2 separate regions of the Homo sapiens genome follow, and region 2 is linked to region 1. The links come from fine-mapping of genetic effects on gene expression. A gene starts in region 1. The other region holds a variant in brackets. All regions are shown on one strand. Distances are from middle to middle.

Region 1 (15,564 bases):
AGAGTCTTCCTTCTCCCTCTCCACTGCTCCTGCATTCATATAGACAGCTCAAACTGGACTTGAATTATCGTATCACTTATGTCACTGAGACCTTCCCCCACCTATTTTATTTTCTTGGAGTCCCCAGTGTTATTCTCTTGTGTTTTTTGGGGTGCTCTTTTCACTGCAGGAATGTCCTCCTCCCTCTGCCTGATCAACTTTGGACCTCATTTTAATGCTCAGCTAAAATATCAATAACCTGTCTTTAGGTTGACCTGACTTACTCCCTCTCATTTCACTATTAATTGCTCCCAATGGTGTGTTCTCATACCCTTTTATACATATTTCTCTCATAGCACTTATTTGTTTTATAGTCACTTATTCATGTTGGTCTCCCTGGTAGCTGGAGCTTCTTGGAAGGAGACTCTGTGTTGAACTTAAATCGATCTCTAGACCTTTATCTATAGAGAGAGTCAAGAAATGTTTATGGAATTAAGTTGAAGTGAATGCCAAAATACAAACTGTATGATCTAAGGCTTAAAGCATTTTATCAGGGAAGACAATGGGACTAGGTAAATATGCAAATAAGTTTTATGATACCCTGAGTGGAGATTTAAGAAAAACAGGGTTATCATAACCACCATTAAGGAGAGAGTGCATGAAGAGTAATGAAAATTGGAGTCTTTTTCCTCACTCTTCATAAGTTTTCCCTTATGGATTATTTGAAGAAGCTTCTGCTCATAAATACGATTTCTAGATGTCACATAACTCAAAGACTTTCTCAGATATTTGGAAGAAGAAGACAGCTATAAGGAAGTAACTTTTCAGAAGATGAGGGGTAGAAAGAGACAAGGTAGGCAAACATGACATGCGTATTTATCAAATTGTTATTCTCTGAACATTGTATACTCAAAGATCCCAATAGCACTTTGAATGAAGCAAGAAAAAGTTAAGGAGTTTAAACTACGCCCCAAAGTCCAATATTTTCTCAATTTTTAATACCTTGATAAAGAACAAAGGAAGGCAAACCCTCTCTTTGGTAATCATAGACATTAAAGGGAAATCAAGGCAGTCTTACATTATTTTTAAAAATCTGGCCAGGTGTGATGGCTCATGCCTGTAATCCCAGCACTTTGGGAGGCCAAGGCGGGCGGATCACCTGAGGTCAGGAGTTCGAGACCAGCCTGGCCAACATGGCAAAACCTCCCTCTACTAAAAGTACAAAAAAAATTAGCCAGGCATGGTGGCACACACCTGTAGTCCCAGCTACTCGGGAGGCTGAGGCAGGAGAATCACTTGAACCTGGGAGGCGGAGGGTGCAGTGAGCCAAGAATGTGCCACTCCACTCCAGCCTAGGCAACAGAGCAAGACTCCATCTCAAAAAAAAAGTATGCAAAAATCCATCATTTATGATTCATGCCTGCATCTAGAGGTTTTCATAGCTCAGCATGACCTTTGTGCAAGTGACCGACTCTCATACAAATTGTACATTTATCCTTTTTTATACTTGATTTTGTGGCATCTATATCATAGCATCTTCTGAGATAAAATTTCAAAGGGTTCAACTTTAAATTGCTTAATAAAAAATTTGAGAAATTAGCTAAGGGCAAGAGTCTCTAAAAATATTTAATAGTAACGTAGGTAATAATGTATGAAAAAGGCAATTTGTTGGAACATATTTATCAAACAGAAATACAAATATGTAGAGAAGACACTATTTTAATTAATTTTGTGCCTTGAACACCTGTTAAATATCTTATTCAGTAATAGCTGATAATTTTTTAATACATGTGAGCACACATCTAAATAAGCAACAGAGAAAATAGTTACAGCATAGAGAAGATTTTTTTGTCTTTTTTTGAGATAGAGACGTGCTCTGTCACCCAGGCTGCAGTGCAGTGGTGCAATCATAGCTCACTGCAGCCTCAACCACCCGGGCTCAAGTTATCCTCTCACCTTAACCCCTTCAACCACCAATAGCTGGGACTACAGGCGTGAACCACCATGCCTGGATAATTAAAAAAAATAACTTTAGTAGAGATAAGGTTTTGCTATGTTGCCCAGGCTAGTCTTGAACTCCTGAGCTCAAGTGATTCTCCTGCCTTGGCCTCCCAAAATGCTGGGATTACAGGCATGAGCCACTGCATTTTGAATGAGGCAAGAGAATATGCTTTTTAATAGGAATTTTAAATTGAAGTTTCAACTGAGATCTCAAGATACAAAAGTATGAAATTTCAAGCTTGGTCACTATTATGAAGGAAAGAATTCAAAACCAAATCTATGACTCAAATACTCTCATCCACTTAAAACATATACAATAGTGGAGAAAATTCAAGATAGGTTTGTGGAAGGGAGACTTGCACTCATCACCTCCTGTGCAGAGAAAATGGAGGATGTTTCTTCGGCTCATGCCGGGGACTTCCACGGGTTTCCATTGATTGTGTGGAGAGCTTGGAATGTGTTTCCTGCAATGGGGGTTGGATGCAGGGCAGGGGCATTTTGTGGACTGGGATCTGACTCCCATTCAGAAAACTGGGAAACAGGCTGCCCAACTGCTTGGAAGAGAATGGCCTGCTGGGCAAAGAATGTTTCAATGTTTTCTGTAGCCCAGAGTCCTATGGGAGGGAGAGAACTTGCCTGGAGCCATCTGGAGTTGCGCCTATGAGACTTTCTCCCAGAGGGGTGAGAAGACTCCAATAGGACTGAAGAAACTAAAGCTGAGGGGCCATCAGGAGCGCCAGCTGAAGGTAAGGGTGCATTACCCACATCGCAGAGATTGCAGTTAGGGTAGCCCAGAAGCAACTCTCCGAAAAGCCCCTGGACAGCTAGCATGAAGCACATGCCGGCAGCCTCATGGGCATGCTACCTGTACGGAATACAGGCTTGTGTACTTGGCTTAACGCTCTGCTCTCAAAAAGTTTTAAATTCTTAACTCTTCTCCAGCAAGGGGCCCAGCATTTTCATTATGCACTGGGCCTTGCAAATCATGTAGCTGGTTCTGTGTGCTAGGCTGAGAGAGTGCAAAGCTGGCTGACAGCGGTACCAGCTGGGTAAGAACTGTTTTGTCCTTCACCCAGAGACTGACTTGTGGAGTGGAAGAGGAAAATAAGATAGAGAAATAGAGAAGCTGAGCCTGCCTGCTTTCCCCACTACAAAGTTTGAATTCTAAATCAAATTCAGAGCTTTGATTCAAATCCAATTACTGAATCGAGATAGTGTTTGCAATTTAAAATGGTCATAGTTCTGTCTAGTCAACAGAAAAATTCTGAGACTGATTTTCTCCTACTATAAAAAGCCAGTATTATTTAACAAAATAGCACAGAATCAACAATTGAAGGACTTCATAGAGGGTTAAAATAGTGAGATGTAGATTTGAAACTTTTCAGTTAATTGTGAAAGTGTTTTGATTGGCAGAAGAAACTGTGTTTTAAAATGGATGGGGAAACTTTCTGGAACAGGACAGTATTTACATGAGATAACCGAGGAAGAAGTTGAGGTAATTATCCAGGTGAAGGTTGGAAATTTACTGTTGTTATTTCACTGCTAGCTGTTGCATGGGAAAGTCCAATCCCCACAGAGCTGATTCAGAAACAACTAGAAATGCACACCACCTCAGGAAGTTAACATTACATACTAAAATGAGGCTGTAGGATTATAATATGTATTAATTTATCACATACCACGATTCTCCTGCACAGCCAGGAATAATAATTGTGTATGCTTGTTGCTTTGGAATTAGAACATGAATTCTAGCTCGATGCTCCACAAGCAGTTATTTATTAGTGGTCAGTAACTTTTTGTGACCCAAGTGTCCTGAAATATTAAATGTAATGTCCAGAGATTGCTTAAGTTGCTAACAGATTTAGCCGTCTGACAATGAGAATATGAACAAAAAAAATTCATTCATACTCTAATAACATAGCAAAAAAATAAAACCTGAGAACAAAATAAGAGGGAGGTTTCCACAGGGCTTTAAGTAACCCAGATTCACACAGCACCAGATTAGTGATATATCTGGCCCTTGGCTATGCTCATATGTTCTTGTACAGGCACCTGGCCTGTGCCTTAAGAAAGACATCAGGACTTTGGGAGGCTGAGGTGGGCGGATCACGAGGTCAGGAGATCGAGACCATCCTGGCCAACATGGGGAAACCCCATCTCTACTAAAAATACAAAAATTAGCTGGGCGTGGTGGCAGGCGCCTGTAATCCCAGCTACTCGGGAGGCTGAAGCAGGAGAATCACTTGAACCCGAGAGGTGGAGTTGCAGTGAGCCGAGATCATGCCACTGCACTCCAGCCTGGTGACAGAGCCAGACTCTGTCTAAAAAAAAAAAAAAAAACAGAAAAACAGACAGACAGACAGACAGACATCAGGGAAAGGGAGAAAAAGACAATTAGTACTGATAACTATTGTAATGAACTGTGTGCCTTAGTCAGTTTGGGATGCTGTAAGAAAAATATCACAGATTGGGAGGCTTAACCAACAGAAATTTAAGCTATACTCCTTTAGAAATTGTTCTATTAATCATCTAGAATATATTCACTAATTACAGCTGTAGACTTAACGTGGTTATTTCAGAACCAACTGTGGCAGAGAGTGCCAATATAGATTTTTGTATTTGTTTGTAGCAGCTATTGTTAGTTTAACATAAATATATTCACATTTATGGTAAAGGAATCTTAGCTTGCTGACCACTCACTGTGTTTTAGATACTAATATTTCATAAAATTTAATTCACATAAGTTGTTGAAGTAGTTGTAACTGCCATTTCACAAATAAGGAAATATAAGGCTTAGAAAAATTAAGTAACTTGCCTGAGATGAGACAAACTCTGCAGAGAGAGGATTTGAACTCTGGTCTGCAAGTCTCCAAAGCACTTTTATGTTCTTTCCAATAAATCACGTTACATCCCAAGAGGAAAATACTATATAAACTGTACATAGTACACAGATTTATTAGAGCCGTCATTAGAACATTAGAACATGTATTTCTTCCACAAACAGGTATTCTGTGTCTGCTTTGTTCCATGCCCTCTCCTAGGATGACACACCCTTTCTATTAAGACAGAAGAGCAGTAACTTAATTTTTGTTATGTGATGCCCTGGTCTGAATTTTTGTGTTTCCCCAAATTCATAGATTGAAATCCTAACTTCCAAAGTGTGTTAGTAGATGGGGCCTTTGGGAGGTGATTAAGTCATGAGGGTTTGAGCCCTCAAGAATGGGATTAGTGCCCTTATAAAAGAGGCTCAAGATGGCTGGGAACATTAACTCATGCTGGTAGTCTCAGCTACTCAGGAGGCTGAGGCAGGAGGGTTGCCTGAGCCTAGGAGTTCCAGGCTACAGTGAGCTATGATCATGCCACTGCACTCCAGTCTGGGTGACAGAATGAGACACTGTCTCTAAAAAAAAAAAAAAAAAAAAAAAAAAAAAAAAAAAAAAAAACAAAGAAAAAGAAAAAGAGGTCCAAGAGAGTTCCCTCACTCTTTCTAAAATGTGAAGACACAGCAAGAAGTCACCACCTACAAACCAGGAAACGGAACCCTCTTTAGACACCAAATCTGCTGGTGCCATGATCTTGGACTTCCCAGCCTCCAGAACTGTTAGAAATAAATTTCTGTTCTTTATAAGCTACCTAGTTGATGGTATTTTGTTATAGCAGCCTGAATGGACTAAGACATTAGATGCTCTGAAATTCTAAATATCCTTCCAGTTTTAGTTACTCCCAAGAAATGGGGGAAGTACCAAGAAATAGCTCAGTATCAAACTTAGTCATTGGTAGTAAAGAAGAATGAACATTTTTCTTAAAATGAATAAATAACTAATACTGAGAAATGTTAATCTTAAGAATATTTGGTGTAATAAAGAATGAAGGCTTTCTTTGCAAAATTTAGGAGGGACATTCCCAGGGATGAACATGCTGGCTGCACTCCATATTACTGGATGTGATAACAAAATAGAGAAGAAATCTGCCACACACTCTGTATGGAGTACCGACATACCACAATCGGCAGATTCTACCAAATTCATACCGGCATAGTCTAAGAGAAAGAACAACGTTATTTAAATAAATAATATCCCTAATCAATAGTAATTCAATAACAAAATCAAACATGCTTTTATTATGGAAACTTATGAAACTACTATAGTCCACAAGCAAAAATTGAACAGAAATAAAAACTTATAATTCTTCAAATACATGAAGCCGAGAGTATATAATCCATTCTCACATACTGAATTTTAGGGTTTAATCCACCTAAGATTTAATGCAATCTGACCAGACTGGGAGAAATATTTTGAGGTAGTATGGCTCATAAGACACATTCAGTTCTTGTAAATATATTGATGTTAAATTTGGGAACAAATGAACATCTCACTGATAAGAGATATCTAGTAATTCAGTAATTCCGGATACTCTGACTCTCAAAAGTTAAGTATTTAAAGTTTCAGACACTCTTTTTAGTGCTGGTGTCATAAGGGACTATTTTCTTAAAAATAAAAAGCAAGTTGGGGTACTATGGAATAAAAATATGACCTATTTTTGTGTTTTACAGCAAGAAACCTGTAACCCAATAATTTTACCAATAGTGACTGTGAGAGGTCTGATAATTATGGGAATACATTATGTATATTTTATAGATACAACGAAAATAGGACAAAGTCTGTTTATTCATCAGCTCATAGCATGCTGGGAAATATGGGAAAAGGGGAAAGGCATGGTGCAGGACTTTCTCTCAGACGGACTGTGTTATCTTAAAATGGCAAATTTTGCTCCAGGGTGGTCAGGGAGACAAGTTTCCCTTACAAACGGAGAAAACTGACTTTTTTAAAAAACCCTTTTATTTGGTTTCCTACTCCTGTCCACAATCCCAACAGATGCACAGTTCATAAAAGATGTGAACCTGGAAGTATAAATATTAATACCACACAGTACATAAATACCAGGGGGCTACAGTATAAGAAAATGACTACCATAAGAGAGTTGTCAAGACATAGAAAAGCAGAGAATGAAGTGCATGTCAGGAGGAGGAACTCTTCTGCAGAAAGAAGCCACAGACATTAACAAAAATGTTGCAGTGGGAGAAAGTAACAGGTACATCAACAAGGCTAGAGCCACGTGGCGGGATAATAGGGATGCTGCCCAGGTGTTTCCAGAAGCGATAAAACTTGTAAACTTTTATAATTTTCTGAAGTGCGCTGCATGGTAAAATATGGTCATTGTGCAAAAAAGTTGTCCCCAATGCAGTCTCAGGAGTCACTGACTTCAAAATAAAGAAACGGTCTCTTCGTAGTAAATGTAGTACCTCGTGGCTTTCCCAAAGTCATTGAAAACGAATATCCCTAAAAAGGGTGTGATTTCAAGAGTGAATTACGATCCGCCCGCAATCTGTGTACCGTGTGTGGACGAATGCTTGCAGCGAGCGGTGCGGAAGGCTGTTCAGAGAGGTGTTTTTGGTCTGCCGTGGTCTCCTGGGATAGTCAGGAATGATTCTTGCTACGGGCTGACCCGGGTTCCCTCTTCCCCGAGGTGCAGGGGGTGGGGTCGGCTTCTGGACTGCTCCGCGCTCTCCGGTCCCTACCTCATTGGGCACCGCCCACTTCGTGGGCTTCCAGGTGCGAGCCCTCGCGCCGGGCCCATCTCCCCAAGGGGCCGCGGCGGACTGGAGGAGACGCCCGGGGCCTGGCGGCGCGCGCGTCCGCGGCCAGGGCGGGTGGGCGGATGCGCCGAGGAAGCGGCTGGGCGAGGAGCCTCCGCTCCCGGGCCTCGGGTGCCCGCCAAGGGCCACGCGGGCGAGGGGGAAACCCAGAACTTCCCGCCCGGGAGCGACTGCCCCCGCTCCCGGCTCTGGCTGGCTAGGGGGATGTTCTCGCGAGAGGAGAGGGGGCGCGGGGCACCGCTGGTTTGGGGGCGCGGGGAAGCCTGAGGACGAGGGCCGGGCAGGGAGGGGAGCAGAGGCGGCGGGCAGGGCCGGGGACGCGGGGAAGCCGCTCCCGCCAGTCGCCGAGAGCCAGCCCCTGACGTCAGGAGTTTTCCTCAAAGTCAACAACAAGCCCCGCGGCGACGGCGAGAACCGATCGGCGGCGGCCCCGAGCGGGAGGAAGGAGGGGGCGGGGAGGCGGCGGGGGGTCCCCTCAGCGAGGCGCAGCCCGGGAGGAGGCCGCAGAACCCCTCCCCGCGCCGGGCGCGCCCCGGGGCCCAGAGCCGCCGCCCCGCCGGCGTGACCCGGCCCCCGCCCGAGCGGTGTTTTCTGGTGATGAATTTGTAGCCGATATCCGATTCCCATGTAGAGTCTCCGCCTCCTCCTCTCCCCGCCGCCGCCCTCTCTCCTCCCTCCCCCTCCCGCCGCCGCCGCCGCCGCCGCCGCCTCCCGCTCCAGCTCCGCGGCCCGGCCCGGCCGGCTCCCTCCCTCCCTCCCCTGCAGCCCTTCGCTTGCCCTCCCGCCGGCCGCACCGGGCTCCAGGAGGCCAGAGGCTCTGTGGGGTGGGGGGAGGACAGGAGGGGAGGAGGAGGGAGGGGGGACCCCCGAGTCGCCCCCTCTCCTCCCCCCGCCCCCCCCCGGCTCCATCCTCCGCCGCCGCCCGAGCAGCTGCGGGGCCGCCACCGCCGCCGCCGCCGTTGCAGGTAACAGCCACCGCCCCCAACTCTAGCCCCCTCCCCGCCTGGCCTCCACTCCCTCCGGGCCCCGGGCCCCGGTCCGCCCTCCCTGCCTCCCTCAGGCGGGGGATGGCGGCGGGGTGGGGTGAGGCGGGGGCTTCTGGGTTGTCACCGCGCCGGGGGCGTGGGCGGGGGCTGGGTCACCGGAGGCTTCGGGTGTGGGTGTGGAGGCCGGGGGATGCCCAGCGCGGTTGACACCGACACCCCCCGCTTTCCGGGGAAAGCTGGGGGGCGGCGGTGCGCAGCGGGCCGGGGGAGGGGTGTTCCCGGCCTAGCGGTACCGTCTGTGTCTGGGCTGCCCCGGCCCGGCGCCTGCTGTCTGCGCAACTCTCGCTCCTTCCCCTCGCCCCTCCCCGCCCGGGCCGCGCGGCGTGGGGAGGGGGCGCCCGCCTGGACCGGGGGCGGCGGCGAGGTTATATAACGCGTGGAGCGCCGGTGTCAGTGTGTTTGGGTTGGGGGGAGGGAGCCGTCTGCCGCGCGCCCTGGCGCTGAGGCTGTCTGCGCGTGGGGTGGGGTGAAGGCGAGGATGCACAGGCGTCCCCGGGGTCTCCTTCCTTCCCCCACCCTTCCCCGCCACTGGCGCGCAGGAAAAGACGGCACTGGTGGGGTGGGGGGGGGGGTGTGTGTGTGGGAGGTGGGTAACGTGCTTGTCTGTGTTTTTAATAGTAGTGGGGTTTTGATCCGCTTGGGAGTTGTGTGCTAAGAATAGAAATGTGCGGAAGATGCTGGGTTTGGCTGATCCAGTGATGCTGTCGCTGCTGGCGGCGGCGGCAGCTCTGGCTGCAAGTAAACAGACCAGCCTCTTCCTTGTCCACCTCCTCCGGCGCATCGGTCCGCATCAGCCATGATGCCGGTGGGGCCCTTCAGAGCCCAAAGTTGAAGCCTAGCTGGTTGCTGTGTTGACCCTGACGCCGAGGCGGGGTCACCATCCCTTGTTTGGGATTTCCCGGGAATCTACAGTTAGCCTAGAGATAAAGAATCTCGTTGGGGCCAGGTTTTTCCAATACCGGTATTTACTGTTTATGTTCTGAAAGCAGAGGAAATGCTTACCCACAAGTCAAAGCTGGGATGCTCACATTTCTTCCATCAAAATAATGTTGTTATGAAAATAAAACCAACTCATTTCACCAATGTGGCATTTTGGTTGAAAGCCTGGTAGTTTGCAATTGATGAAGTTTCCAAATAGAAAGTCAACAGTGAAACCTATGCATCTATATTGGGTAATTTCTAGCCATAATAAAGTGTTCACACTTTGATTTTAGTTGAGGCTAAAGTAAAAAATAATGGCTTTTTGTAGTTAATACATTGGCAGTTGTCTCAACAGTTTAGACATGTGTTCCGTATTTGGTAAAGCATGGTCATATATGTCTTTTAGTAGAACTATACATCACTAGGCAACCACTGGGTTTTGTCAGTGGTTGAAGCTGACAAATGAGTGAAACTCATTGGTTTAGGTTATGTATTTACTTAGGAAAACGAAGGTGGAAGAGTCTAATAAAGATGGTGTAGGAAATGAAGATTAGTCTTCAGAACTTGAGTATCACTTGCAAAATATGTATAAACGAATACAAACATTCCGGGGGTGGTTGTCTAAAACATGAAAATATTTTATAATTAAAATAGCAACTTATTACTAAGTTACTAGTTTTCCAAGGTTTATGACTTAATGCACAATTATATGCAAGATATATATCCGGACTGTAATTGTTTTCCTTTTGCCAGTACATTATCTTGACTTGGAAAGTTTACCAAGGAGATAGTACTTGAAAGTTTACAGGGAGATGGTACTTGAAGATCTTTTTGTTTTCCTTACTAGGGTTGACCCCAATATCTTTGATTGGCTTGAGGTTCCAGTTTTAAAGTGAGGGAGGACAAATATTACATGAATGAGACTGTTGAAATTTAGATGAATGTAGGGTTTTAGTTTTCAGTTGTGTATTTGCATTGTGGTTTTGCAGCATGTTTTCTTACAGCGTTTTAAAAATAGTCCAAAGTAATCCTGCAAAAATTGTGAAATTATTATTTGTATTCATTTGGTTTTCTTTCCATAATTATTACTGGAGTGAATTGTTTTCCAATTTAAAATTAATTTTTGGCTTAATAATCTTGACATCGACTCTAAATTGTATATGTCAGAGTACTTTAAGGTTTTGCTTTGGACTTTTTAAAAATTAATTTCATAGCTGTAAAATATTTTAAATAAGATTATATTTAACAAATACTGGAGTGTGAACTGTGTGCTGGTTTAATTAAAAACTTTTAATATTTACATTTCATTCAGAAAATCACTGTCAGAAGGAATCTGTTTTCAGAATCACTGCAAATCTAAATAAACGTGTTGATTAAACTTACTAGGGAACAAATGGACTTAGCATAGAGACTTGTGGAAAGTAAGGACTTATTTTTTAAGCTGTAGCTTTTGATGTAAACATCAGAAATTTTCTCATAAAAATTCAGTGGAAATTTCCAGCTATCTGGGTTTCTTTAAAATGAGGAACCTGTTTTACAAATTGATTTTGTAGAAGTTTAGCCTTTACTTAAACTTTGTGTATTTTCGTGAAAAGATAGCTATGTTTTCTTTTGTTATTATATCTTTTAGTTCAAGAATTTGTCCTTGGGAAGGTAAGGCAATCACTGTTAACAACTTGTTAGTTGGATGCTTAGCATGATTTGATAGGAGCTTGTCTTTATAGTGTGATTAAGTTTTGAAGTGTTAAAAAGAAAAATTTAAAACTATCTTAGATTTGAGCAACAAAATGCAAGAACTGAAAAACCATTTTCATTTTGAGCAAATCAGTCTTGTGATCTGACTGGCATTTTTATTTTTAAGTTAATATGCATTAATAATACAATTAATTTTTGTTAGAAGATTTGTGTTACTCCAGGTTTCAGCATGTGCATCAGTATTTTAAATCCTGGTCACACAGCATACCTTCTTTTGGAAAGATAGTCCTGAATCTTCCGACAACAAATACTTTGTCCTGATCTTTTACATGGGATAGGATTAGATTCAGTTTAGAGTTAATGCTAACCAATGCCTGGTAAGCAGTTGCCATGTGCCAGGCACTGTTCTATGTGCTTTACCTGTATTCATTTAATCTTTCAAACAACCCCTGCTACACTTTTGAAAGTGATTTTCACATAAGAAAAACTTATTGTGGCATTCTAAAAATACCTTTTATTTAAACTTTCCTAATTCTGCAACACTTCTAGTGTTTTTCTTGTTTGTACCTATTATTACAGTTAACAGTGATAATTCTAAATTTGCAAAATTTGGTACAATAATTTCCATAGCATCAAGTTAATAAAAGTGTATTGACTGGCCCATTAACATCACCTTTCATTTGTTTAAAATGCCAAATTAAATAACTCAAATGTTTACAGATTTTATTATAGCATCATAGTCTTTAATCAAATTAGATGTAAACTCATTTTCTCTGCCAAGTAATCTTTGAATACTAATGGGTAGATAAAATTAATATATGCTTCTTGACTTGTTGATGTGTTTTTTAGTTCTGTTTCTTTTCAGTACTCTATCACCAACTACAGGTATTTCTCATTTCTAAATATTATGAGAGGAAAGTAAAAAGATTTACTAGAAGAAAACACTAGAATTGCAAATGATAATTTTTCTTCCCTATATTAGATAATTCCTATATATATATGGATGGATTTAAAAAAATTTATAATTAGGGAGATTCCCAAGACAGATTTTAGGAGGATTTTACATGTATATTGGAATCTATATTAGAAAGCTTCTGACTGTATTTGGGGGACTAGGGGATGGGAGGGGAAGGAGGACAGTATTTTTCCAATAATGGAGCTTAGCCCAAATTTTGTCTTAGTTGAAATGCTGTTTGAATGTTTTATCTTCCAATTATCAAACTTTTGAGGACATGAACTATGTATGTATAATCATGTCTTTCACTTATGATGCCATCTATATATGAAGTAGATACTCCGTAGATTTTAACTTGCAGAATCATAAATATTAGCTCTGGAAGAGCTATAAAGCTATTCAGAGTTCATCTAATGCTATACTTTCATTTTTATGGCTCCGGAAACTGAGGCACAGATAATTAAAGTGACCTTATACAGCATCACTCTGGGTGGGGCAGGGACTCAAGTTTCTTGGTCTTTCTGGTGCTCTTCCTAATACACCATTGTGATGAACCTTGTTAGAGGATTCCATACCTATTGGGTAGCTCAGTTTAATCTGGGGGTAAATTCTGTCAAGCTGATTCTTGGTATTTAATGGACCATATATCAATTGCATTTTATATGTATGTATGGATTTTTAAAAATTTATGATGAGGCTCCCAAGACAGATTTTAAAATGATTTTACATGCATATTACAAAAATATGGCCAACTGTGCAACCAAATTCTTTTTCTTTTCTTTTCTTTTTTTTTTTTTTTGAGACAGGTTCTCACTGTAGCACCCAGGCACGGTCACCACTCAGCATAGCCTAGACTTCCTGGGCTCAGGTGATCCTCCCACCTCAGCCTCCTGAGTAGCTGGGACTACAGGTGCCTGCCACCACTCCCAGCTAATTTTTGTATTTTTTGTGGAGATGGGTTTTGCCATGTTGCCCAGGCTGGCCTTGAACTCCTGGACATAAGTGATCCTCCTGCCCTGGCCTCCCAAAGTGCTGGGATTACAAACTAATATCCCTTTTTGACACTCTACAGCAACAGACTCATGGTGATTTTGAGGAGTCTCAGCCTTACCTATAGGTTCTGCCTGTGACCTCATAATACATGAGGCTGGTGGTCTTGCATTCAGCTACATAGCTTTTGTCAGGCTATTTAGTCAGGCTGTCTAGAGAATGTTTAGTCTTGATTCCTGACTGTTAAATGGTTAAGCTCCACACTTAATTTGCATTGAAGAATGACCTGTAGTCTAATTTAGCGCTAGGTTGGGAGTCTAACACTGAACTTAACTGCTATGTATCATTTATCACAAACCAAGTTGAGAGAGTATGTTTGTGTAGTCCATCTATCCATTTTTCTAGTTATCTAAAATTTATGATATGATTCTTGACCACATAACACTGGTGTACCTGGACCACATTTTTTGGTCCCCTTCTGTGCAAATGGATTTACTAATTTTATGTTGGCATTTTCCTTTTTAGTTTGAGAGTGACAATAAGCAATGACCCTGTAAAACTCATTGCTGTATATGGGAGGGTGTTTTTGAGGACTTTCCCGCATACATCTTATGAAGAAGACCCATGGGATAAATTCGATGTTTGTCCCAGGAAAAGTTGTATTTCTTCTGAGGAACTTTTTTTGCTTTTTAAAAAAATTTGTGCAGCGTGGACAATATAGCGGGACCCCATCTCCACAAAAATTTTTTTTAAAAATTAGCTAGGCATGGTGATGCCTGCCTGTAGTCCAGCTCCTCAGGAGGCTGAGGTGGGAGGATTGCTTGACCCCCATTGGAGGCTGCAGTGAGCTATGATTGTGCCACTCTACTCTAGCCTGGATGATGGGGGGAAACCCCATCTCAAAAAAAAATTTTTTTTGGATACTGTAAATAGGAAAGCCTGTTGTGTTTTGTTATTTGCATTGTCTTCCCAAGAGCTCCATGCCAAATTTGTGACGTATCTTTCCCAAGTATGTATGCCTTTACTCTGACTTCTTTTTATCTTAAGGCAGTATAGTTTTGGAATGCAGGCTCTGGAGTCAGACAGCCTGGGTTCAGATCTTGGCTCCACATTTACTAGGTGTGTTGAAATTGAGCAAGTTGGTTTATCTGTGTGAGCCTCAGTTTCCTTGTCTGTGAAATGGAATTAATAGTATCCTCATAAGGTTATAAAGATCACATAAGAATAATAGATGTAAGTACCCGTAACAGTTCTTGGCACATCTTGAGTACTAAATATTTTTTTCTACTTTCATATTCCCTTTGTTTCACTTTACTTTATAATAAGTACATAATATGAAATCAATTATTTTTTAATCTCCTTAAAATATTTCTTGGAACAGGCAGAGTAAGAATACGTAAATGATGAGTTCTTGGTACGTTGTATTTTATATCACTTAAAGTATTCACGACTGGTTGTGGTGGCTCACTTCTGTAATCCCAGCACTTTGGGAGGCTGAGGCGGGTGGATCATGAGGTCAGGAGTTTGAGACCAGCCTGGCCAATATGGTGAAACCCCGTTTCTACTAAAAATACAAAAATTAGCAGGGCGTGGTGGCGCACACCTGTAGTCCCAGCTGCTTGGGAGGCTGAGGCAGAAGAATCGCTTGAACCTGGGAGGTGGAGGTTGCAGTGAGCAGAGATCGCGCCACTGTACTCCAGCCTGGCGACAGAGTGAGATTCCGTTTCAAAAAAAAAAAAAACAAAAAATTTACAATTGCTTCTGAAATTACAGGGATTTAGGGCAATTAACTTTCATTCTCTTCCCTCTTCACCTCAAATACACATCACCAAACAAATTTTCTCTATTATTTGGGTAGGCGTGACTGGTTTTCTTAAGACTTTTTTGTTGCAACCTCTTAGGTTAAAAGTTTCACTATCATTTGAAATTGGTCACAAGACTAGGGAAGTGCTTTCATTATAGAACTATTTAATAAATAAGTTCCCCAGTTTGAAGAGCCAGACTTTTATGTGAGGTCAGGCCAGTTGAAGACATTTACAAAGAATTAGTTGTTTGTTATTGCTCTGTGAGTTGCAAGAATGGAAAAAAAATTCTTTCTTCAATACTTCCTTCCAGGCTGAGTCATCACTAGAGAGTGGGAAGGGCAGCAGCAGCAGAGAATCCAAACCCTAAAGCTGATATCACAAAGTACCATTTCTCCAAGTTGGGGGCTCAGAGGGGAGTCATCATGAGCGATGTTACCATTGTGAAAGAAGGTTGGGTTCAGAAGAGGGGTAAGTGCTCCGCAAACCAAAAATAATACGGTTGGTAAGAGTGCTAGC
Region 2 (15,564 bases), 340 kb after region 1:
ATAATCTTGGCTCACAGCAACCTCTGCCTTCTGGGCTGAAGTGATCCTTCCACGTCAGCCTCCCAAGTAGCTGGGACTACAGGCGCCCGCTGCCACACCCAGCCCAAGTTGTATATTCTTAATGTGTGCTGTTTAGTGTATGTTAATTACGCATCAATAAACTTTTTTTTAAAGTCCTTGCCCTCGTGGAACTTATATTTTATTGGTGATGAACATTGACAGTAACAAATACATGTATATCATATGTGTGCATGTATACGTGCCTGTGTATCAGATGTCGCAAAGTCTTGAAGAAAAAGCAATGTGAAGATAGAAAGTGAGGGGGAGGATAGCTGTTTAATGTAAGAAGGCGGTCAGGAAAGTCCTCAGTACACGTGGCATTTGAAACAGAGACTATTTTAAGCTCCCCTATAATCTTTTGAAAACTGTGTTAAGATAGGTTTCAGTTTGTTAAAGTTACAGGTCATCATTCTCTCATCTAAAAGGACAAGTTTCCCCTAACTTGAAGGCAAATTTAAATTTTTGACATCACAAAGAACCAGATGAAAAGGATGGGGCAGAGGTGAGCAAACCTACTCCTAGTGCCCAAGAGAAGCCGATTCCAGCCACAGGAATTTCTTGTGGTTAACTTCTGATTGGAAAGATAAAGACCTATTTTGTGAACATCTGTAGAATAGTAAATCAGAAAAACCCAACCAGAATTCCAGTCTTCCCGTTTTCTGCCAGATAGGGGCAATTACCCCCTTGGTTTTCTAAAAAAAATAAAAAAAACAAAATTGTTCCAGCCTCTGTCACCTCTGGGGTTCCCTGTGCGTGTGCATGTGATATGTGAGGCTGGTGTGGAGAATTTAGCCTGAGAGTCAGAGGGAGGGTTTCTAGCAGTGGAGTGACCTGCTTGCTCATGTCCAGGGGATCCAGCAGGGCAGCTAGAAAGAAATATGGTCTGGCACAATGGCAGGCTTCTCCTTGCCACTGGTGGAGGAGTTTGTTTCAGTTTAGGGATTAGTCGCCATTACCAGCTGATCAGTGGAACGTAGAGTTGGTTCATCCCCAAAGGAGTGCTTGCTAATCATGAAGACCTTAGAATAGCTGTGTGCTGGGGGTAAACAGAAAGAATTATAAAAAGAAGAGATTAAGAATGCTTTGTAGCATGTACCATAAACTGAAATGTCCCTTATTTTGAAAACCTGCTTTTAATTCTGCTCATCCCACGATTCTTAAAAATATAGTTCTGTCTAGAGAATAATTTAAAGATTTTCCTTATTATTTAACATACATTTGGTGACAGAAAGAGTGGGAAAATGCACTGATCTCAAGCCAATTGTGTATTTGTTTTTGTAAAATTTTTATAAAACATGCTGATTTCTGTCATTCTGTTTGCCATGTTCCTATCCCCGTGAGAACTGTATTCTAAAGCAGCATCCCCTGTTCTGAATGATACTCTGCAGAGCACGCACTCTGACCCTAATGCTCTGGGACTGGGCATCCTGTGCTAGAAGGAACCTGTGGGTTCCACCTGTCCCTCAAGGCTAGAGCCCTGAGAAGCAGGAGCCTCGTGTTAGCTCCTTCTCCCTCCCAACCAGTGGAGGTTCACAGGGCTCCGGCTCCTGAAACCTCCAGTAGCCCGAGACTTTCCTTCCACCCCCACCTTCCCTAACGCCATGCCTGCCGCAGGTGCAGTGCGAATGAGATGATTCCTGCCCTGTCAATCTCAGGGGAGCTACTCTTAATCTCTTCTGGGCTGTGGTCCCCTTTGAGGATCTGATGAAAGCTGTGGGCAAGATTTTGCATGTAACGTCAGGGGCTACCAGGAAACCCTTTTCCAGAGCAGGGCAGGCATCAATGCCCATCTCTTATCAGCAAATTCTTAGCAAAGTACAAAGTTGTAGTTCTTTACGAAGGGCAAAGGCAGCACTCTCATCTGTAACCTGGTGATAGCTGTATTATTAAGTTGTATTTTTATTACTACCCTCTTCAGCTAGCACTAGAAAGAGGTTGCCCGAGGAAGAGCCCACATCCTGGCACACTGCTCCCCATCAATATGGTTTTGCATGTATGTTTGTTATTGGGGAAAAAAACCAGCACAGATTTTTCAATATCCCTCTCCCGTCCTATTCAATGGTTTTCTTTTGTTGTTTTTCGTGATCCATTAGATTTTATACAGAACCACCAATTACCCACCGGTTGGTTTAGACTGTTGACTGGGAAGCCAAATATCATGTCTCCCTTACCCAGCGACTCAGCATTGTAGACTTTTGTTCTGTTCATTTAACTACGTGCTCTCTGCTTTTTTCCTAGAAAGGAATTTTCCTGAATTGAAATCAGTTAATAAAACTCTTTTTCTTTCTTTTTACAGCTTGTACCTCCTTTTAAACCTCAAGTAACATCTGAGACAGATACTAGATATTTTGATGAAGAATTTACAGCTCAGACTATTACAATAACACCACCTGAAAAATGTAAGTAAATTTAGAAGGCAATTGATAAATTTCTAATATAATTTCTCCTAATGTAATTGAAGAAAACAGTCTTTTAAAAACTCATCTGATATTTTCAAGATCAAATTCCACAGTGACTTACTCCATTCTATTTAAGAATATTGAATATTGAATTGAATTTAAGAATATTGAGTTCCCAGTGGTAATATCAAAAGACTGCAAGAAATGCTTTTCTGGGTAGGACAAATTATATAGAGAGAAATTGTAGATGAAATTACAGACTAGCTCTTCCTTACTGTTCACCAATAGATTGTTTTGACACCAACTGAAAGGATTGTGAAATAGAGACTCCCCTCTTTCCTAGACTTCGTTCATTCCCACATAACCTTCAGAATTTTGCCAGTTTTGGTCTCCTACTTACTTAATAGTTTTAAAATTCATGTAGAGTCACTCCTTTTTACTTAGCTCTCTCTTAAATAGTATTATCTGTGAAGACATAATTTAGTTTGCTAATACTTTTGGATACCTATAAATTACATATTTATGAAAACTGTGTGTTCATGTACCACTTCAAGTCAATTCATATACATTAGTATGTCTCACACTTGGAGAAATACCATAAATAAGTGGAGCTGTAATGAGGGAAAAGGTGATCAGACATAATTGATAAACATTTTCATGCTGACAGAGGTCTGTGTGTATCATCATTAACTTAAGAATGTGGATAAGATTGCGTTTCAGGGCAATATTTGGATGGCTGCAAGAATGCTTCAAGTTACACATCTTTGGGTTCACATCATAGTTTTTCTTTCCTTTTCTTTTTGATTCCTTCCCTATATGTCTTCTCCTCTCATTCCTTTTTTGGAGGCAGATTTATCCATAGTGCTGATGTGGACTCAGTGTCCGGGAGAGGGGCGATTGGAGGCTAATGCTGTGCCAGAGATGGTCACAGGCAGCAGATTCTACTGTCGAGAGGCAAACAAGGGGTCATGTGGGCCAAGAGGTCTTAATCTTGGGACCATGGTCTGGCCACAAGGGGATTGTGAACACCCTGAAAGTGAAGATATGATGACGTGTGTGTGCTTTTCTTTCTTTAGATTCACAAAAAGTTAAGGTGCTCCAGGTCCTGAAGTTGGGTCAGCCATAGCCAGAAGCAGGGCTTACCAACTTGACCGATGTCCAGGCTAAGTTGTGAAATACCAATCCATTGAAGTGAGCTACTCATGGTCAGTCCTGTGGTGAGGCAGAGTTTCCACTCAATCTTGTGCCATTGCTAGAATTTTAGAATCACTAAGAGTCACAGACAATGTTGGAAAGCCTGTGGAGTCATGGGCAAGTAGCTCAGCGCTGAGTAGAAATCATGGGCATAGGCCTTGGCCTCTGTCCCCAGCATAGACTGTGGCATTAGAATTGTCCAAAATGCTGGGTAACACCAGTGAGTTTTCGGATCGGCCCATGGGCAGTTCCTGCCATACAGCCTTTGCTAGGCCCTTTCATTTGGATATAATCCTAACTGTAATCAGACCACATCATTCCTCTGCTTAAAACCTTCCGGTGCCATCCCATTGCACTCTAAATCCAAACTTGCTCACACTGGTTTGCACAGCACTGACTGATCTGGGCCCTGTCCACCTCTCTGACCTCTTCCTGTTCCATCTTCCCCCACTGTCCCTGGGTTCCAGCCACACCTCGAACATGCCACACGTCACCATGCCTCGGGCTCTGGGGACAGTATTTATGGTGTCCAGGCCTGGAATGCTCTTCTTCCCTGATCTTACTTGGATGGCTCCTTCTTGTCCTTCAGCTCTAAGCTTACATGTCATTCCATCAGAGAACCTTCTTTGACCTCCTAGTCTGAAGAGCATCAGTCTGACAACATTCCCTCTCTCTCTTCATTCTCTGCATTGGCACCTTGACTTGCTGGTATTTTTCTGTTTGTTTGGTTAGTGTCTATTTCCGCCACTAACATGCAGTGGGTTGGAGAGGAAGGATCTAGTTTGTCTCATTCGTTATTAGCCCAAGCTCCTAGTTAGATGCCTGGCACAGTGTGCGTATTCAATAATACTTGTTAGGTGCATGAATACACAGAATATGGTGAGGGCCTAGGAACTTCAGAGCCGGGAGGACACCCAGGCTTGCCTCCCCTCTGAATATCCAAAGCAGATATTGGGATAGGAAGGTCTTGACAGGTCTCTTTCCTCAGTCTCAGCCTCTGAGAAAGTTTCCATTCTTAAATAGAGCATTTGGCATTTGCGTACCTTTAGAGCAAGTAAATATGTTATTTTGGAAGTCATAGAAATAAGAAGGCTCTAAAATGTCAAGCCAGGAGTAGATATTTTACTTAAGAAAGCTAAAAGTGAAATCCCAATTTGGGACATGGAGTGAGGCTGAAAAAGCCCAGGACTCAGACCTGGGGAACCTGCCTTGTGTCCTGCCTGTGCCCCTTACAGTTCTGGGCGATGGCCGGTCACTTTGTCCCCTGGAAAAGCAGGGAGCAGGGCTGATAGTCTCTCAGTGGCGTTTTTGTCCTCCCGTGTGCCTGAGAAGCCGTCTCTTTAGGAGAGGCACCGAGAGTTCTGCCAATTTGAATCACCCTATTTTCAATTCTGCTCAAGCACCAGATTGGCTAGTCCATAGTGTTACTGTATGCTGTGGGCCAGTCCATTTAGGGGGATGATAGGCCCAACGCAGCAAGCACCTGGCTGCAGGGGTGGTGTAGTGGAGGGCCGGCGGACAGGGCTGACTAATGCGATGCTCAGAAATGTGAGACTAGAAAGACCAGAGCAAATCAAAATGGATTTGGGTACAAATAAGGTCAATTAGAAACTGTTGTATATGACTCTTAGGCTAGTCAGTCATTTTTTCATGATTGACTTGAATTTCAAAGCCCTAGCTTTCAAGGACCAGAATCTCTTCGAAATTCATCTTACCTGCTTTATTCCTTACTCGACACCCGCGGGGCACTTGTCCTGATGAGAATTTGTCATTAGTGTGCATTTTATTGCTCAATCTCTAGGACTTCTAAAATGAGACTGAAATGTTAGAAGGTGTTAGAAGTCCCCCAGCACAGTTTCTAGAACATAATTTGAACCTAGTTCCTTGGCTTCATTAATCAGCAATATAAAAGCCATCAAGAATGTTTTTCCTGGCATGTCATATTTTACCACTGACAGCACCTCTGTTCTTAAATAACATGTGTCATTTCAGACATGGATCATGCTGTAAAAGCCCTACAACCTTGGTGTCTTTAAATGATAATAGGTTCACTTCTAGATTGAGACAGAGATACCTAGGAAGCCTGTACATTGTAGTAACTTTCAAGATGGTTATCAAAATCCACCTGCAATTGTAGGACCACAAAAGTCTGGCTTTTGTCTAGGCGCAGTGGTGCACACCTGTAATCCCAGCACTTTGGGAGGCCAAGGCGGGTGGATCACTTGAGGTCAGGAGGAGTCTGAGACTAGCCTGGCCAACATGGTGAAACCCCCTCTCTACAAAAAAAAATACAAAAATTAGCCAGACGTGGTGGTGCATTCCTGTGATTCCAGCCACTCGGGAGGCTGAGGCAGGAG[G/A]ATCGCTTGAACCCGGGAGGCAGAAGCTGCACTGAGCTGAGATCACAACATTGCCCTCCAGTCTGGGTGACAGAGCAAGACTCTGTCTTTTAAAAAAAAAAAAAAAAAAAAAAAAAAGTCTGGCTTTTGTGGGTGTCAGAAATGGGGTGTGGTCCTGCCCTGCTCCTGGGCCCTGGACAGTACGGAAACGAGAGCCCAGCAATGTCATCTGTTTCTGACAGGGCACACCGCAATTGAGGGGTGGGGAGGGCGCTATGGACTTGCTGTGTTTTTCCCTATTCAGGACCTCTGTAGCAAGGAAAGTCAGACGGAAGAGCTCAGCAGAGTATGCCCAGGCAAAGACTAGCATCGACGCATCTGCAGGCACCTCTGTTCAGCAGCCTCTCCTGCTGTCTGTGTGGCTCAGCAGAGCGCAGCGCTCAGCACTGGGGGCCATGGGGCCCTGGGCTTCCTGTCTTAGGGGAGCAGCCTTGATGGTGGTTAACTGCAGCTTCTGGGTTCTTCTAGGGCAACGGGGCAGTATTTTTAGTTTGACAGTTCCTGGATACATCCTAGATTCCCTTAAGGAGCAGATAAAATGAGAATCACTGAAACCTTGAACGGTGATTACATTCAACATAACCTTTTTCTTGCAGCTTTGAATAGTTTAACTGGTAAGAAACCGTTGCAGCTCCCTAAGTGCTAACACACAGAGGTTTTGTTGATAAAAGTCCAGGGTAGTACCATTCGTTAGCAATTGTCTTCCCACTTGCCACCTTGCTTGTATAAAACAGAATACAGTTATTGTTTAGAACAAATCAGCAGTTAGAAAGGCAAAATGTTCCATTTTCTACAAACAGCTGCAGTGACATGCCAGATTGTCCTCACTGGCGTTAATAATGGAACAGATTTGGGAATGTGTCATCTTTCGTTATCGCCATTGATGGTCCTCCTCCTTCCTCTTACAGAAAAAGAGGGTTTCTTTGAGATCTGGTCGCTTTTACTGCCATATAATGCCATTTGTTAAATGTTCTAAGAAAATCAGGCAACTGATGTTCCTTGGATGCAGGGATTCAAGGGATGTAGCAAGTAGAGTTGATCATTGTCTTCTTTTTCCAGATAAGTGTTTTTGAAAAACATAGTTCATGTTCATTATCATCACTATTCCCTATGCACAGCCTCTCACAGCAGGAACTAACTTGTGTACATTGACAGGCTCCGACTCAGAGTCAGCTGCCACTTCCTCCAGCTCCCCTCCCACCGCAGCCCCTGCCCAGGCTCTCAGCTCTTTTAGGGCCATGATCAGATGTTCACGCCTCATTGTTTCCAAGCCTGACAACAGAAAGGGGCAGGAATGATGGAGGGAGATCATTGGCTTTAAAGAATATCAAGGATTGGGGCCCTCAGGGATATCTGTGAAATTTCCTAGATTCAGAATTGTGATGAATGTGTTACTGAAGTGACAGAATGAAGGCTGTCTCTCAATTCTTAGCTGACACCAGCAAGAGTCCCTCCTCTTCCAAAAGGGTGTCTAGCACCTGCCCCTGTTGAGCATCTGGCTAACCTGGGTGCTGAACCTCGCCGGGCTGGAATGAGTCCTGGCCATGGCCCCAGGAGTCCAGGCAGCTCCTGCCCTTCCTGGCTGAGCAGGACAAGCACCAGGCTCCCCACTGCTGTCCAGAGCCAGCTGCAGGTTTGCTGTGCAGAAACACTGAGTAAAATAAAGCTGTTGGTGAGGAAAATTGTTTATTTGAAATGTGATTGGCTCATGTCAGAATCTGAACATTAAGGTTTTAGCTGCCCGTATTCTCTAGAGAGTTTTTATACTCTGGGGCTCAACCACGGGTACACCATCATTCCCAGCTCCTTCCGTTTTTACTGTAGCTAAAAATACTGCTGAAGGTATTTGATCTAAAAGATGTGTGTGACTTGCTTGGTACAAATATTGGAACCAATAACTTTATAAGGAGGTAGAGATTTCCCCAAATCTCAATACCTTCTAGAAATGCTGACTGCAGTTACAGTGGTCTATTTGCAGAAGAAGAGAGGGCCTCCGAGTTCAGTGTCTTACACAGAGCAGGGAGCCACAAATGCTTCTTGATGGATCAGTTCTCACCTAATACGAGGATATCTTCTGGTACATTAGGGGTCAGAAATTTTGGCTAATGCCAGCTTGATCCCATTTCTAGAATCTTCTGCATTAAGAGTGGGATACAGAAAAGAAAAACAGTGATACAAGAATGGAAGTGTTTATTCTTCAGACAAAGGCAGAGCCCCCTCCTCTTCGGAGTGACAGAGTCAGAGCCTCAGTGCAGTGGGATCTGGCCTGTATGCTTTCTTTGTTTACACCCACATCCAGCGGATGCTCCCTGGAGAGGTTAGAATATTCAAAAAAATTGGTAATGTACTTCCTATATGGGTTTGAGGACATCGAATTATTTTGCTTGAAGAGAAAAGGGTTGAGTATTGGAAAGATTCACTGATTTCCATTGCAGGACAGCATATGATTAAACAAGCTTAGAGGCAAGCACGGGGGATTTAAAATGGAGCACCTCCCCCAGGAGACTGTGAGGCCAGGGGGCCCTTGGGACTTTGTTCAAAGTTCTGCGGTCCTTGGGCCTGACGGGTGCTCAGCCCAGAGCAGATGCGTGGGAGCGCATGTTGACTGAGTGGCTGACCACGTGGCCACATACCAGGAAGAGCTTCCAACAGCACAGGACTGTCATCACAGGACATTTATGAGAACAGGGTGCTGATCATCTGTGATCTTTGAAATACAGGAAACCAGGAAAGCTGACAGGAGGAACACTGTGATTGTCAGCGGCCTGTTTTGATGCCTTTCAAGTCTCTTCCATTGTTTCCTGATGAGCTAGGACTCAGATGTTGACATCCTTCCCTCTTTTTCTTTCACTTAGTCCCTTCATGCTAAAGTTTTATCATAGGGAAATTGGGAAAGGTGAGTTAAGCCAGATGCTAGATGTTGAATGAAATTTCATAAGAAGCTTTATTTTGCAGTTGCACTTAAAGCATCACAAAGAAAAAATATAAGCACTTGAAGACATTCGATGATGAATTCTATACAGACTTTGGATGCTGTGGATTTCACTGACTTGCAGTTTTGATATATGTGGTTACATGAAATGAAAGGTTACTGAAGACTGCTCCTTCTTAAAAACTTCTGTTTTCTTCAATACCATTTTTTTCACTGTTTCATTGAGTCTTGAAATTTTGATGTCTTAGAGATGATTCTATAGTATTATTTCTTCATAGACTATGTATTTATGAAAATCAGATGATTTTTGAAGTATAATTACTCTACAGCTTATTGATGAACACAAGTTTATGGGAGCTATTGCCTCTGTTCATCTTTCCTATGTTCAGAGTTTAAAAAACATAGACTAGAGATAATGTTGCAAAAAATGAATGTGTAAAATTAAAATAGATGTTTCCTGCCCACAGATGATGAGGATGGTATGGACTGCATGGACAATGAGAGGCGGCCGCATTTCCCTCAATTTTCCTACTCTGCAAGTGGACGAGAATAAGTCTCTTTCATTCTGCTACTTCACTGTCATCTTCAATTTATTACTGAAAATGATTCCTGGACATCACCAGTCCTAGCTCTTACACATAGCAGGGGCACCTTCCGACATCCCAGACCAGCCAAGGGTCCTCACCCCTCGCCACCTTTCACCCTCATGAAAACACACATACACGCAAATACACTCCAGTTTTTGTTTTTGCATGAAATTGTATCTCAGTCTAAGGTCTCATGCTGTTGCTGCTACTGTCTTACTATTATAGCAACTTTAAGAAGTAATTTTCCAACCTTTGGAAGTCATGAGCCCACCATTGTTCATTTGTGCACCAATTATCATCTTTTGATCTTTTAGTTTTTCCCTCAGTGAAGGCTAAATGAGATACACTGATTCTAGGTACATTTTTTAACTTTCTAGAAGAGAAAAACTAACTAGACTAAGAAGATTTAGTTTATAAATTCAGAACAAGCAATTGTGGAAGGGTGGTGGCGTGCATATGTAAAGCACATCAGATCCGTGCGTGAAGTAGGCATATATCACTAAGCTGTGGCTGGAATTGATTAGGAAGCATTTGGTAGAAGGACTGAACAACTGTTGGGATATATATATATATATATAATTTTTTTTTTTTAAATTCCTGGTGGATACTGTAGAAGAAGCCCATATCACATGTGGATGTCGAGACTTCACGGGCAATCATGAGCAAGTGAACACTGTTCTACCAAGAACTGAAGGCATATGCACAGTCAAGGTCACTTAAAGGGTCTTATGAAACAATTTGAGCCAGAGAGCATCTTTCCCCTGTGCTTGGAAACCTTTTTTCCTTCTTGACATTTATCACCTCTGATGGCTGAAGAATGTAGACAGGTATAATGATACTGCTTTTCACCAAAATTTCTACACCAAGGTAAACAGGTGTTTGCCTTATTTAATTTTTTACTTTCAGTTCTACGTGAATTAGCTTTTTCTCAGATGTTGAAACTTTGAATGTCCTTTTATGATTTTGTTTATATTGCAGTAGTATTTATTTTTTAGTGATGAGAATTGTATGTCATGTTAGCAAACGCAGCTCCAACTTATATAAAATAGACTTACTGCAGTTACTTTTGACCCATGTGCAAGGATTGTACACGCTGATGAGAATCATGCACTTTTTCTCCTCTGTTAAAAAAAATGATAAGGCTCTGAAATGGAATATATTGGTTAGAATTTGGCTTTGGGAGAAGAGATGCTGCCATTTAACCCCTTGGTACTGAAAATGAGAAAATCCCCAACTATGCATGCCAAGGGGTTAATGAAACAAATAGCTGTTGACGTTTGCTCATTTAAGAATTTGAAACGTTATGATGACCTGGCAACAAAAAGTAATGAAGAAAATTGAGACCTGAGTGAAGATAAGAAATGATCTTTACGTGGCAAAATGAACACATCTTGAGTATTTAGGAAATGGGCAGTGAAGGCTAAGAACCTGGTGTGTTTCTTGGGATCATGGTACATTTATCACTGAATTAAGCCATCAGGGAAAAAACAACAAAAAAAGAGAACACCTCCAGCTTTTCTTTTTCTGTATATACTCATGTCCCCCAGATTCCAACATTTCTCACTGAAAGGGGGCATGTATGCAAACCTCATCTTTCTCCTTCATTAATGATGATCTTCAGATTAAACCCTTTGGTGCTAGGAGCTGACAATTTCCAAAGCAGCCTGTGAAGTCCTAGGGGCTGGGGGCCACTCTTGCGGCAAGCAGAAGGCCATCCTACTCCGCGGAGTGATCATGGAAATGTATTTTAGTTAAACTCTGACAGCTCCCAAACGGAAGACTACAGCATGACGTAGTATTATGATTGCATTGTATGAAAGAGCAAGTGACTTTCTAAGTAGGATGAATCATATTCATATGCAGATGTCTTAGCCTCTTGACGCTGGAAGTGTGGATTTATAGCTATGAAACCACTGCTGGCAGTGGGTGGGCCACTGGGACTGACGGGGGTTAAAGGGCATTTTACTAAGGCAGCTAAGACATATTCAGACATCAACGTTATCCTTCTTTTTCATATTTCTACCTGAGTGAAGTTCATCCTTAGTATTGAGTAGGAAGTTACAGTAAATGGTAGTTCATTCTTACTTACACACATAGCTAATCTTTTTTTTTTCACTTGGAATTATGTTGAATGTTTCATTTTGACAAAAAAGTAGACTAGAAGGTATGTTCTTTAAGTTGTCTTGCATCCATTATATAAGAAAGAAACAGGTGAGAGGAAGAGCAGAAAGCTGAGACTGGCTGATGTTCAGAGCACTTACTCCTCTAGAGGGAAAGCATGACACCGAACACTAAGCACACAGCTTTTTGTTGTTTTGGTTTTTTCTCCCGCAAATCTTAAAGTGATTCCCATGACCTTGGCCAAGGACACTTCTTAAAGATTAATGACTGGCACTGACATTGCCCCAGGCGGGCCACTCCTCACACTGGCTCTCAGTTCCCAGCCATGCCTGGGGCTCAGTCACTTCTATTCCACCCTCTGAGACTCCATTGGTGTCACACAAGGTGTCTTCTTGGCTTTGATTTTGAGAATCCCCTATTTTCACTTCCAGATCTGTCAGCTGCCATGGAGGAATAATAGAAAACCAGAAATGCGTGTAGAGGGAGATTTCTAAAACTTCCCTTGTGTCGCCCATAGTTGTAGTTTTGGGTTCTGGCAGGTGGAACACCCTGAAACCTGGAATCATTCTATGAGAATACAGTTCAGACTTTGCAGACTCCAGCCCATACTAACTGTCATGAAGCTTGACTTCTTGTCATAATGCAGCCATCTTGGAGGAAATTGGCCATTTCTGCTTAGATGGTTGGCAGGGTCGCGCTCAGCTTTGCTTTCTACACTAATTACATAGCATTATTCAAGTATTGTTTTCCATTTCCCATCCCTGATTTCCAGCTTCTTAAAGCTGACTGTTCTTGCAGGGGCCACTTGCTTCTCCTAGAGTACAAAAGTAAGGGCCTTCCTTACTAACTGCAGGGTCTCTCTATTACACCTCAACATACACACTTTGCTGCTACTGTTTGTACTGTCTACAGTAGAATTTCCTTATCTTGCTCCTGGTAGTGCATTACAGGCAAGCATGAAATGTAAAGTATTTATTTAAATAAAAAGAAAACCTCTAAATTGGTAATTGAATTACCTCCCTGTAGCTTTATAGTTTGTGACATTTCTTGACCTTGCTAGTTCTTTCATTAGATCTGCGCAAGATCTAGTCATCTGGTTAAGGATTTTAAGCAGATGCAACTATAAACCCAAGAAACTGTATTACTATTACTGTTGGTCATACTAAACCTGTCTATTTCCTGAAGTATATGACCCACAAGGATGTGGAATAACTAGGAGAAACTGTTTTTGTACACTGTACATCCTTAGTATTTTTACACGTATATGATAGGGATGAACATGATTTTCCTTCGTACAGACAGCTTAAATAAAGCACTATGTCAATCTGCTACTTCTCTGTTTATTGTTGTTGGATGTGGTTCTATAATCCCCCCAAATTAAATCTTCTTTAATGAAAACATGATTTTTAATAGCCCCAGCTGGTATTAACCTACCTTGTATAAAATGTGACAGGAAAATATAGAAATAATTCCTTGTAGCTCACACACACACACATAGGGGATCATTTTTACTTCAGTGAAATGGCAGTAGTGCGGTTGTGCAAACTTTGATGAACGGCTGCTTCTGAGGGGAAACGCTGACCTCTCAGCACTGGATTTAGGATGGATGTACTGTGAAGCCAGGGATGAAGGAGGTCTCAGACCCTGGGGACATTCAGACCCGAATCATCTATACAACACACGGTTTGGACCCAGAATCTGAAGGAATGTAGCTTTTCATTAACGTCTTCCTGATAATGTACTGCTCTGCATATTTCCTTTCTTAGAGTGTATTTCTAACAACATGTCATGGCAAATTAACAAACTTAGACGTGGGTGATGTAGATGGGTAGGATGGCTGGACTGCAGTCTGACTTCACGTTGAATCATTCTGGATGGGGCCTTTTTCTGATTTTACCTCATAAAGCTACTATTGTAGAAACTTGGCTTTGCTCCTGTGACGAAGCCAGACAGAGGAATGGCTTTTGGGACCAGAGTGAGTCAAGCATGTATGTGTATGTCACACGGCCAAATTTGAGGGCATTCTCACATGTGCTCTTCTCTCAAAACCACTGGGGTTGACAGATCCAGGAGGCTAAAAAAAAGTGACCTCTATAATTCTTTAAAGGTGCTATTTTTAGAATATTGTATAATTTATTCACAGTATATCTAAAACAGAATTAAGGACAATTAAAATATCTTATGTGACAGCCTTTATGTCTAGCACATTTGATGAAATAAAAAACTTCTGAATCTGAATAGAAGTTCTACTGTTTCAGGCTTGAACCTTTTACATGCTCAAGAGATTCAAATGGTCTCTGTGTGTAGATCATGCCACCGCCTCCAAAGCCTAATCCACATCACTTCTGAGAGGCAAGGCTGAGCATATGGTGACATCAGCTCTGTGTTGAGATGGTGATGAGGATGATGGCTCGCTGGCCAGGCAGGGCAGCCGAAGGTCAGGGACCTGTCCTAACTAACTGCAGCCTTGCCTTTAGTGTTTGTCATTCTCAGATACAACACGGTATGTCCAGTGTCCGTTTTTATTACTTTAAAGCATTTGAGGGCTTAATTGTGTATAGTAGAAATACTATTTTAGACAAATAATTATCTGTGTACAGATATTTGATATACTCTAAGTAAATTTTCTAATTTCACTAAGTACGTTTTTAGGCTCCTCTCAAATACTGCGTATTGAAGAAAAAAATCTGACACCACCGAGCCAAAGATGCTTTTTTGTCTGTTTTCGTTGTTTAACAGAATGGAAAGAGTAATGCATAGTGCTTCCTGGTGTCTCCTGATTGATTGATTGTGCACAAAGTAGGACGATAAATAAATAAAATGGAGTCTGATGGGACATTGATTAAAGGTGAAGGATGATTGATATATAGATCATGAAAAGAAAAATGAATGGCAGGAAAAAAAGTTTGGTCCTTAATATACTTTGGCCTAGTTAAAATATGTGCCTTTTTGGTGTGTTTTGTTCATCACTACAAGATAAAAAGGAAACATTACAACTCAAGTCTTTAAAAAGTTCATTTATTGAAAATCATATGTATAACCTAGCATACGAATGAGCAGATTTAAACACATAACTTCAAGCCATTTCTGAAAACATACACCAGGAGCTCTGCTCAGCTAGAGTCAGACTCCAGCTCCAGCCCGACTGCGTGCGGGGACAGCGCCCGCGTTGATGAGGACCAGCCCCACTGCAGGCTGAGGCGGTGTCACCCTGGGAAGGTCGTGGTGCGTTGTGGCATATTAAGTCTAAACCAGATGAATGTAAATATCTCTTTGTAAATCATTTATTTCACTCTGTTCCATCCAGGTCAGCAATCAGATTGTGGCATGCTGGGTAACTGGAAAAAATAATAAAAAGTAAGTTTCAATAGCTCATGTTCTTCAATGTTATTTGTCTTCTCATTTGCTGGTTTAGTCACCTTTTATGATGAAAACTGTTGTTGGAGAAAAAAACCTGTTGCTAAAAATGTGGAAATTATATGAAAAGTTTGTGCCTCATCTTGTCCACATCAAAGCCCTTCACATATGAAATAAGGTTAACTGGTTTAATGGGTTAAATTTGAAGACAACCTAGACAAAAGACACGCCTGCCTCTTAAATAAGGACAGTCTGGTGTTAGGACATGGCCAGAGAGCCATCTCTTCTGTCCGGGAAAGGACACATTGATTTGTGCCATAATCTGTTTACTGAAAATTTATCTGACCTTAACGGCAGGTAATTCTAGAACAAAAACAGGGTGTAGGCCAAGTGCCCCTAAGAAATTCCTCGTGAAACAATACAAGCTGAAACACCTCCAAATTTGTAACTGCAAGCAATTTATTGTAACCTATGAAAAAGTACTTTCACATGGAAACCTCACATGTGTTGGAAGAGGG

Which allele goes with the higher level. Alleles are on the strand shown, and positions count from the first base shown. SD is a standard deviation of normalised expression in the study named.
For the expression in subcutaneous fat of the gene that starts at base 8,398 in region 1, A is the low allele of the variant in region 2 and G is the other (small effect, 0.11 SD a copy in GTEx).

What was found. PIP is the estimated chance that this variant, and not a neighbour inherited with it, causes the effect.
Region 2: its variant is the best candidate, but not a certain one, in a credible set for the expression of AKT3 in subcutaneous fat (GTEx, PIP 0.67).

What each region holds. Positions count from the first base shown.
Region 1 is chr1:243,843,077-243,858,640 of GRCh38, reverse strand. It overlaps AKT3 (AKT serine/threonine kinase 3), which reads left to right and starts at 8,398. Exons shown (of 14, transcript NM_005465.7): 1 at 8,398-8,601; 2 at 15,359-15,516. The coding sequence starts at 15,471. RefSeq lists an enhancer at 8,989-9,489.
Region 2 is chr1:243,499,219-243,514,782 of GRCh38, reverse strand. It overlaps AKT3 (AKT serine/threonine kinase 3), which reads left to right. Exons shown (of 14, transcript NM_005465.7): 13 at 2,357-2,459; 14 at 9,449-15,059. The coding sequence ends at 9,534. SDCCAG8 (SHH signaling and ciliogenesis regulator SDCCAG8) reads right to left here. Exons shown (of 18, transcript NM_006642.5): 18 at 14,692-15,027. The coding sequence ends at 14,998. Among named protein-coding and RNA genes, the nearest start is that of MIR4677, 160 kb to the right of the region's middle. The variant G/A (reference allele first, on the strand shown) is at 6,011.